Homo sapiens: one gene and its partner. The protein of the gene in region 1 interacts with the protein of each later gene in a biochemical or structural test. Each region holds a gene or a part of one and is shown on either strand. Other genes may lie near its edges.

What was found. Proteins that work in one complex are often made in the same cells at the same time.
Region 2: the proteins of SPEN (region 1) and RBBP8 form a complex in vitro, tested with the Homo sapiens proteins (one study listed by BioGRID).

Annotation. Positions count from the first base shown.
Region 1 is NC_000001.11:15,875,128-15,878,782, forward strand, and holds part of SPEN (msx2-interacting protein), read left to right. Parts: intron 1-1,074; coding exon 1,075-1,551; intron 1,552-3,655. UniProt on the Homo sapiens protein: May serve as a nuclear matrix platform that organizes and integrates transcriptional responses. In osteoblasts, supports transcription activation: synergizes with RUNX2 to enhance FGFR2-mediated activation of the osteocalcin FGF-responsive element (OCFRE).
Region 2 is NC_000018.10:22,936,222-22,939,876, reverse strand, and holds part of RBBP8 (DNA endonuclease RBBP8), read right to left. Parts: intron 3,124-3,655; 5' UTR 3,026-3,123; coding exon 2,917-3,025; intron 1-2,916. UniProt on the Homo sapiens protein: Endonuclease that cooperates with the MRE11-RAD50-NBN (MRN) complex in DNA-end resection, the first step of double-strand break (DSB) repair through the homologous recombination (HR) pathway.

The DNA.
Region 1 (3,655 bases):
CTAGTTCTCTACAAAAGTAGAGAACTTACGATTTCTTTATAGGATTATAACTAGTTTTTAATATTAACACATAATTGCATGTGTGTAATCGTACATGCAACGTGTTTTGTACTTTTTAGGTTGACAGGTATTCACATCCTACTAAATGATTGTTTAAGTTAAGCTATTTTGCTAATAGCGACCTTAGAATATCTTATAGTTCCTAATGTTACCTAATTTCATCACAGGCAATTTGAGTATAGCTAAAAGCCAAAAGAACATATTTCCTACAACCATTGAGTTTATACATTAAGAAATTGAATCATGGAATAGGCATTTTTAAAGTCATTTGGAATTTGATAGCACAGGAGTAAATAATTTTTATTTTTATTTAAATTCACATAGAGTAGCATGTGGTAACCCAATATTTTGATACTTGAAGTGGTTTTTTTTTGAGATTCTATTTTTATTATTAAATGTAATTGGGTACCGCTGTGCAGTCTATGTAGTCTAGTTTATGTAGTCCAGTAATTTTTTATAACTATCCAAGCAGTCAAAACTTAATGAAAAAAAGTTAAACTTAGAAAATTTTTTCTGGACTTCTTGAAAGTCCTTCCTATTGTTGAGACATGCGCTGCAGCAGGGCTTTCATGTCTAAGTTAAAACATAGCATGGAAATGTGGCCTAAAAGAAATTTGTGAGTAAATAAAATTTGGTATATACTTTAATCAGATGAAAGTGTAAAAACTTTCATATTATTAAAATAGTCTCTTGTTCCGTTAACATGAAAAGGAGATTGTATATTTATGTATGCAAGTCAGAAAATCTCTAATAAAGTAAGCAAGTGAGCTGCAGAACACTAGTCATGAAAGCCCAATATACAATGAAAACAATGATTGCTCAGCTGTGAAAATAATTTTTGGAGTCAAGTAAAATGTTAAGCTTGTTAGCGTTTGCTTATTAAGTAGGTTAATGCTGTTTAGAAAATGACCAGTTGCAAAGACAAAGACAATGCTGAAGTGAATGTTTGCATGACTTGCTTTTAGTTTTGCTTGCTCCTTTCTGATTAAATATTTTTCCCCCTCCTAAATGCAGGGCTTCAGATAACAGGGAGCGTGCTTATGAACATAGTGCCTATGGACACCATGAACGGGGGACGGGAGGATTTGATCGGACAAGACATTACGATCAGGATTACTATAGAGATCCTCGAGAGCGGACTTTACAACATGGGCTCTATTACGCTTCTCGGAGTCGAAGTCCAAATCGCTTTGATGCTCATGACCCCCGATATGAACCTAGGGCTCGCGAGCAGTTTACACTGCCCAGTGTGGTACACAGGGATATCTACAGGGATGATATTACCCGGGAGGTACGAGGCAGAAGGCCAGAGCGGAATTACCAGCACAGCAGGAGTCGGTCACCACATTCATCCCAGTCTAGAAATCAGTCTCCTCAGAGACTGGCTAGCCAAGCATCTAGACCCACAAGGTCCCCTAGCGGCAGCGGCTCTAGAAGTAGATCCTCCAGTAGTGATTCAATCAGCAGCAGCAGTAGTACCAGCAGTGACAGGTAGGTTAACAGCCTTTTGTTATAACAGATGAGCTAGCTTTAAACAAATTCTCAACAATCAGTGGGAATGGTTTCAGCATAGTATTATTTTTTAAAGTAATCTTGGATCATATATGTATGTAATCAGTAAAGAAACTGGCATGTGGCCATTGAATTAACTGTTCTAAGTACTCGAAGTTAAGTGATGATTTGCAAAGTTCTGTTTCATCCTCCAGATGCACAGTATTAAAATTAAATGATCAAAGTGGAAGGGAGGTGGTGACTCTAGCTGTGCAAGGCAAATCTTGTGACACTGAAAATATGGTATCTCTTTAACATTTTTAATTTTGTAGGTGTATAATACCAATTTATTTCTATTATTTTGATTGAAGATTTGTAAAAGCTGTTTGGTTAAATATGTATTGGTGAAATATAATATTGTTGACACATTTATTATCAATGACTAGATCAACTTATGAACAAATTTTAGCTAATTTTAACATCAGGGTGGTAGCCAATTTATAAACTCAAGTAGAAAAGCTTCCTTTGAATGCAGGTTGTAACTTTACTGTTCTGTAAACTGATCTCACTAGTTGAGAATTTCTTTCTACAAATATATATATATATTTTAAAGACAGTCTCACTGTGTCACCAAGGCTGGAGTGCAGTGGTGTAGCCTTGGCTCACGGCAACCTCTGCCTTCTGGGTTCCAGCAGTCCTCCTGCCTCAGCCTCCCAAGTAGCTGGGATTACAAACGTGCGCAACCACGCCTGGCTAATTTTGTATTTAGTAAAGATGAGGTTTTGCCATGTTGGCCAGGCTGTTCTTGAACTCCTGACCTCAAGTGATTTGCCCACCTCATCCTCCCAAATTGCTGGGATTACAGGCATGAGCCAGAGTGCCCAGCCAAAAAGTTTTATTTGAAAAGCGAAAATAGTAAGTTGAGGGTAATCTTAATAAGAAACTTAGCTTCAAACCTAGTTATATGGATTTTGAAATCACAGATCTGGGTATGTGGTATAGATTATCCTTTAAGTAATCTAGGATAAGTTATTTATGTTCTTCAGGTCTCAGCTTTCCCTTTTTTTTTTTTTTTTTTTTTTTGAGATGGAGTCTCGCTCTTGTCACCTAGGCTGGAGTGCAATGGCGTGATCTTGGCTCACAGCACCCTCCACCTCCTGGGTTCAAGTGAGTCTTCTGCCTCAGCTTCCCATGTAGCTGAGATTACAGGCACCCATCACCATGCCAGGCCAATTTTTGTATTTTTAGTAGAAACGGGGTTTTACCGTGTTGGCCAGGCTGGTCTCTAACTCCTGACCTCAGGTGATTCACCTGCCTTGGCCTCCCAGAGTGTTGGGATTACCAGTGTGAGCTACTGCGCCTGGCCAAGCTTTCTCATTTTTAATAAGGACCTTAATAAAGTTATTGTGAAAATTAAAATGAACACTTAATGTAAAATGCTTACTTTGATACCTAGTATATGTTAAAAAAAATGCTGCTATTCAATTTGTTAATCCCACATGTCCTGCTTTTCAATTTAGGTGGTATATATTTAAAATTTACAGTCAAATTCTTTGACCTGATTAAAAGGCTCAGATTACTTTTCTTTTGCCTGCTTAAAATTAATTTAAGCAAATGGTCATGTAGTTGAATGTCTGTTTTTAGGCTTCCTGAATTTTCTTATTCAAAATAATACATGAAAACATTTTGTTTATCCCTCTGCCTATCTAGATATAATTCAAACATTCTGGAAGATTTGCATATTAAAATGAAACAAGCACCTAGTTTAGAAAGTCATGAAAGTTACGTTCTATGCCCAGCTTTCAAGCCGTGTGACATGGATGAAAACTCTTAACTTCTTTTGATTTTATTTGGTGTGCTGTCTAGATAAATGATTGATGAAATTCATTTGAACCCTATAAACTAATTATAAAATCTTGTTCCACTTTTTTTTCTGCATAGAATTGTCTAAAATGCTCAAGTTTTAGTCATTTTCCATAAACCTACCTCATTAAAAAGCTGCATCTGCATTCCACTGGATCAAAACTTATTGAAAAGGTGTTGAGGCACTGGGCGTGTGGCTCACTCACGCCTGTAATCCCAGCACTTTGGGAGGCTGAGGCAG
Region 2 (3,655 bases), on another chromosome or scaffold:
GCCTGGTCTGACATAAACCATGCACAAACCCACTTCCCCATGCAACCACACACACCCTCAGTTCTTCCTTCATGTTTTCAGATAATAACATAGTATACTGCATTAAAATTCTAGACTAGAAATTCCCTTAAAGCTAGCACTATATAGGATTTATTCTTATTCACAAGGTCTGGCACATAGTAAGTGCCCAAAAAACATTTCTTGAACATTTCTTTGTGTCTCCATGAACACTGGGGCTTGAAAGAATACTTTTGGGGTTGTTCATATTTCAAAACTCATTAATTAATAAGGGTGTCACCAGAAGTTTTGCAAGAAACTAAACTTACCATGGGAAAGTTCTTTTTTTTTTTGAGACGGAGTTTCGCTCTTGTTGCCCAGGGTGGAGTGCAATAGCGTGATCTCAGCTCACTGCAACCTCCGCCTCCTGGGTTCAAACGATTCTCCTGGGTTCAAGCGATTCTCCTGCCTCAGCCTTCCTGAGTAGCGGGGATTACAGGTGCGCACCACCACACCCGGCTAATTTTGTATTTTTAGTAGAGACAGGGTTTCTCTATGTTGGTCAGGCTGGTCTCGAACTCCTGACCTCAGGTGATCCGCCCACCTTGGCCTCCCAAAGCACTGGGATTACAGGCGTGAGCCACCGTGCCCAGCCTACCATAAGAAAGTTCTAATACAGACTCACATACTACACTTTAGATTCAGGTTGATTATGTTTTAATAGTACTCCAGTGTAATGATACAGCTATAAAGCACTGCAATATTAAACTTATAATAGGTAATCAAGAAACAAATGTAATATGAAGCATTTCTCATACATAGGGACATAGGGAAAGTTACAGAATTAAAGTATATTAAAATTTAATATTAAAACCTTGAGCTTAGCTTCATATGGTGTATCTTTTAACACAAATAATATTTACTCATCTCAACCACAATTGCTTAATCCTCTAAAACTCCTTGCACGTCATAAAAACCTTTTAACTGTTATTTCACTGTACTGTAATTATCTGTTTACACGACTCTACTAAGACTGCAGGCTGTCTGAAGGTAAGTGGCCATTCACTTTTGTATTTCAGTGCTACGGGTTTGTCAAATGACTTTATGTAGTATTTTTATGTCTATATCCTGCAAAGAATTTTATAGAAGAAAATTAAATTTAGAGGTTAGGTAATTAGGCTAAGATCACAGAGCAAGTGGGTAAATGAAATCAGAATTCAAATGCAGGTCTTCAGTCAACAAATTGTATACGTTTTCCACTATCTCATACATATTACCACAAGTAAATAACAGCAAGTTGTATACAAACTATGTTCTGTGGTTAAAAAGCACCAATTTGACCATAAAAATGAATCACAAAAACTACAATTGTAAATGTCCTCTAAAAATGAGATCTGGCTGGGCGCAGCTCACGCCTGTAATCCTAGCTGTTTGGGAGGCCAAGGCGGGAGATCACCTGAACTCAGGAGTTTGAGACCAGCCTGGGCAACATAGCGAAACCCTGACTCCACAAAAAATACAAAAACTAGCTAGGTGTTCTAAGGTGAAGGATAAGTTTAAAAAAAACAAAAACAAAAACAAACTAGCTGGGCATGGTGCGTGCGCCTGTAGTCCCAACTACTTGGGAGGATGAGGTGGGACAATCACTTGGGCCCGAGAGTTTGACACTATAGTGAGCCATGTTTGCACCACTGCACTCCAGCATGGGTGACAAAGCAAGACCCTGTCTCAAAAAGAAAAAGAAAAAAAGATCAGCTGGGCACAGCAGCGGACACCTGTAATCCTAGCACTTTGGGAGGCTGAGGCCAGTGGACTGCTTGAGCCCAGAAGTTCAAGACCAGCCTGGGCAAAAAGGCAAAACTCTGTCTCTACAAAAAATACATAAAATTAGCTGGGCGTGGTGGTGCACACCTGTAGTCCCAGGTACCCAGGAGGCTAAGGTGGGAGGAACACCTGAGCCTGGGAGGTTAAAGCTGCAGTGAGCTGTGACCATACCACTGCACTCCAGCCTGGGCAACGGAGTGAGAACCTCTCTGAAAATTAATTAGTAAATAAATAAATACATGAATATATAAATAAATAAATAAATAATGAGATCTTTGGGCCAGGCGCAGTGGCTCACGTCTGTAATCCCACCACTTTGGGAGGCAGAGACAGAAGGATCACTTGAGGCCAGGAGTTCAAGACCAGCCTGGGCAACATAGTGAGACCCTGACTCTACAAAAAATAAAAAATTAGCCAGGCATGGCAGCGTGTGCCTATGGTCCCAACTACAGGAGGGAGGCTCACTTGAGAATGGGAGGTTGAAGCTGCAGTGAGCTGTGATCACACCACTACACCCCAGCCTGGTGACACAGTGAGACCCTGTCTCAAAAAAAATAAAAAAAAAAAAAAGATATCTTTGAATTTAAAGATGGCCATTAAATGTACAAAATTCAACAGTGGACTGAATTAAAAAAAAGTATATATACATCATGGAATACAATGAAGCCATAAAAAAGAACAAAATTATTTTCTTTGCAGCAACATGGATGCAGATGAAGCCATTACCCTGAGCAGACAACAGAAATACTGCATGTTCTCATTTATAAGTGGGAGCTACACATTTAGTACACATGGACACAAAGAGGGGAACAACAGGTACTGGGACCTACATGAGGGTGGAGGGTCAGGGGGGTGGGAAGAGGGTGGGGATTGAAAAACTACCTATGGGGTACCATGCTCACTACCTGGGTGATGAAATCATTTGCACACCAAACCCCAGCAACATGCAATCTATCCATGTACCAAATCTGCACATGTACCCCCGGAACCTAAAAGCTGAAATAGAAATAATAAACAGGACTGTCATACAAAGGTATACAAAGCCACTACAGTCTCAACAAAATACTGCTGTAAGTATTTAAGAAAAGATTTTACCTTGTACTTCTCTATCATGACATTCTTTTAGTTTTGTCCAAAGGTCCTTAAAGTCACTAGATGTATCTGCAGAGTTAGGGCTTCCACAGCTGCTTCCCGAGATGTTCATCTTGCTTAATATGCTCCACACTTCTACTTGCTTAATATTTTCTGACCTTTTCTGTTACATTATAGAGGTATCAAGTCGTCTTTGGACAGGTCAAATACCTGAAATGACAGATTGCAACATAAATGAACTTTGCATTTATCTTTATGTACTTTGAAATCAGGATGAAACACAAGCCCAGATATCCTCATTTACCATTTCCTTATTTACCTATAATCAATCATTTTTAGAATTTGGGAGGGGAAGGAAAGAATAAGGAAAGATGATAATGGTGAGAAAAGTTCTGATTTCAGTTATTTGGCTATATGAGGTAAATTTTCAGGCAAATTTTCTTATTTCTCTTAGAGGAAGAAATTATCTCAATTATATTAAACAGAAAGGATTCAGATATTGAGGGGTTTTTATCATTCATGGTCAGTATTAATTTACCACTATAGACTAATGTATTGTTTTGGCTGGGGGAGATGGCTCTTGCCTGTAATCCTAGCTCTTTGGGAGGCTGAGGTGGGCAGATCACTTGAGGCCAGGAGTTTGAGATCAGCCTGGCCACCATGGTGAAACCCCATCTTTACTAAAAATACAAAAATTTGCCAGGTGTGGTAGTGCGTGCCTGTGGCCCCAGCTACTCAGGAG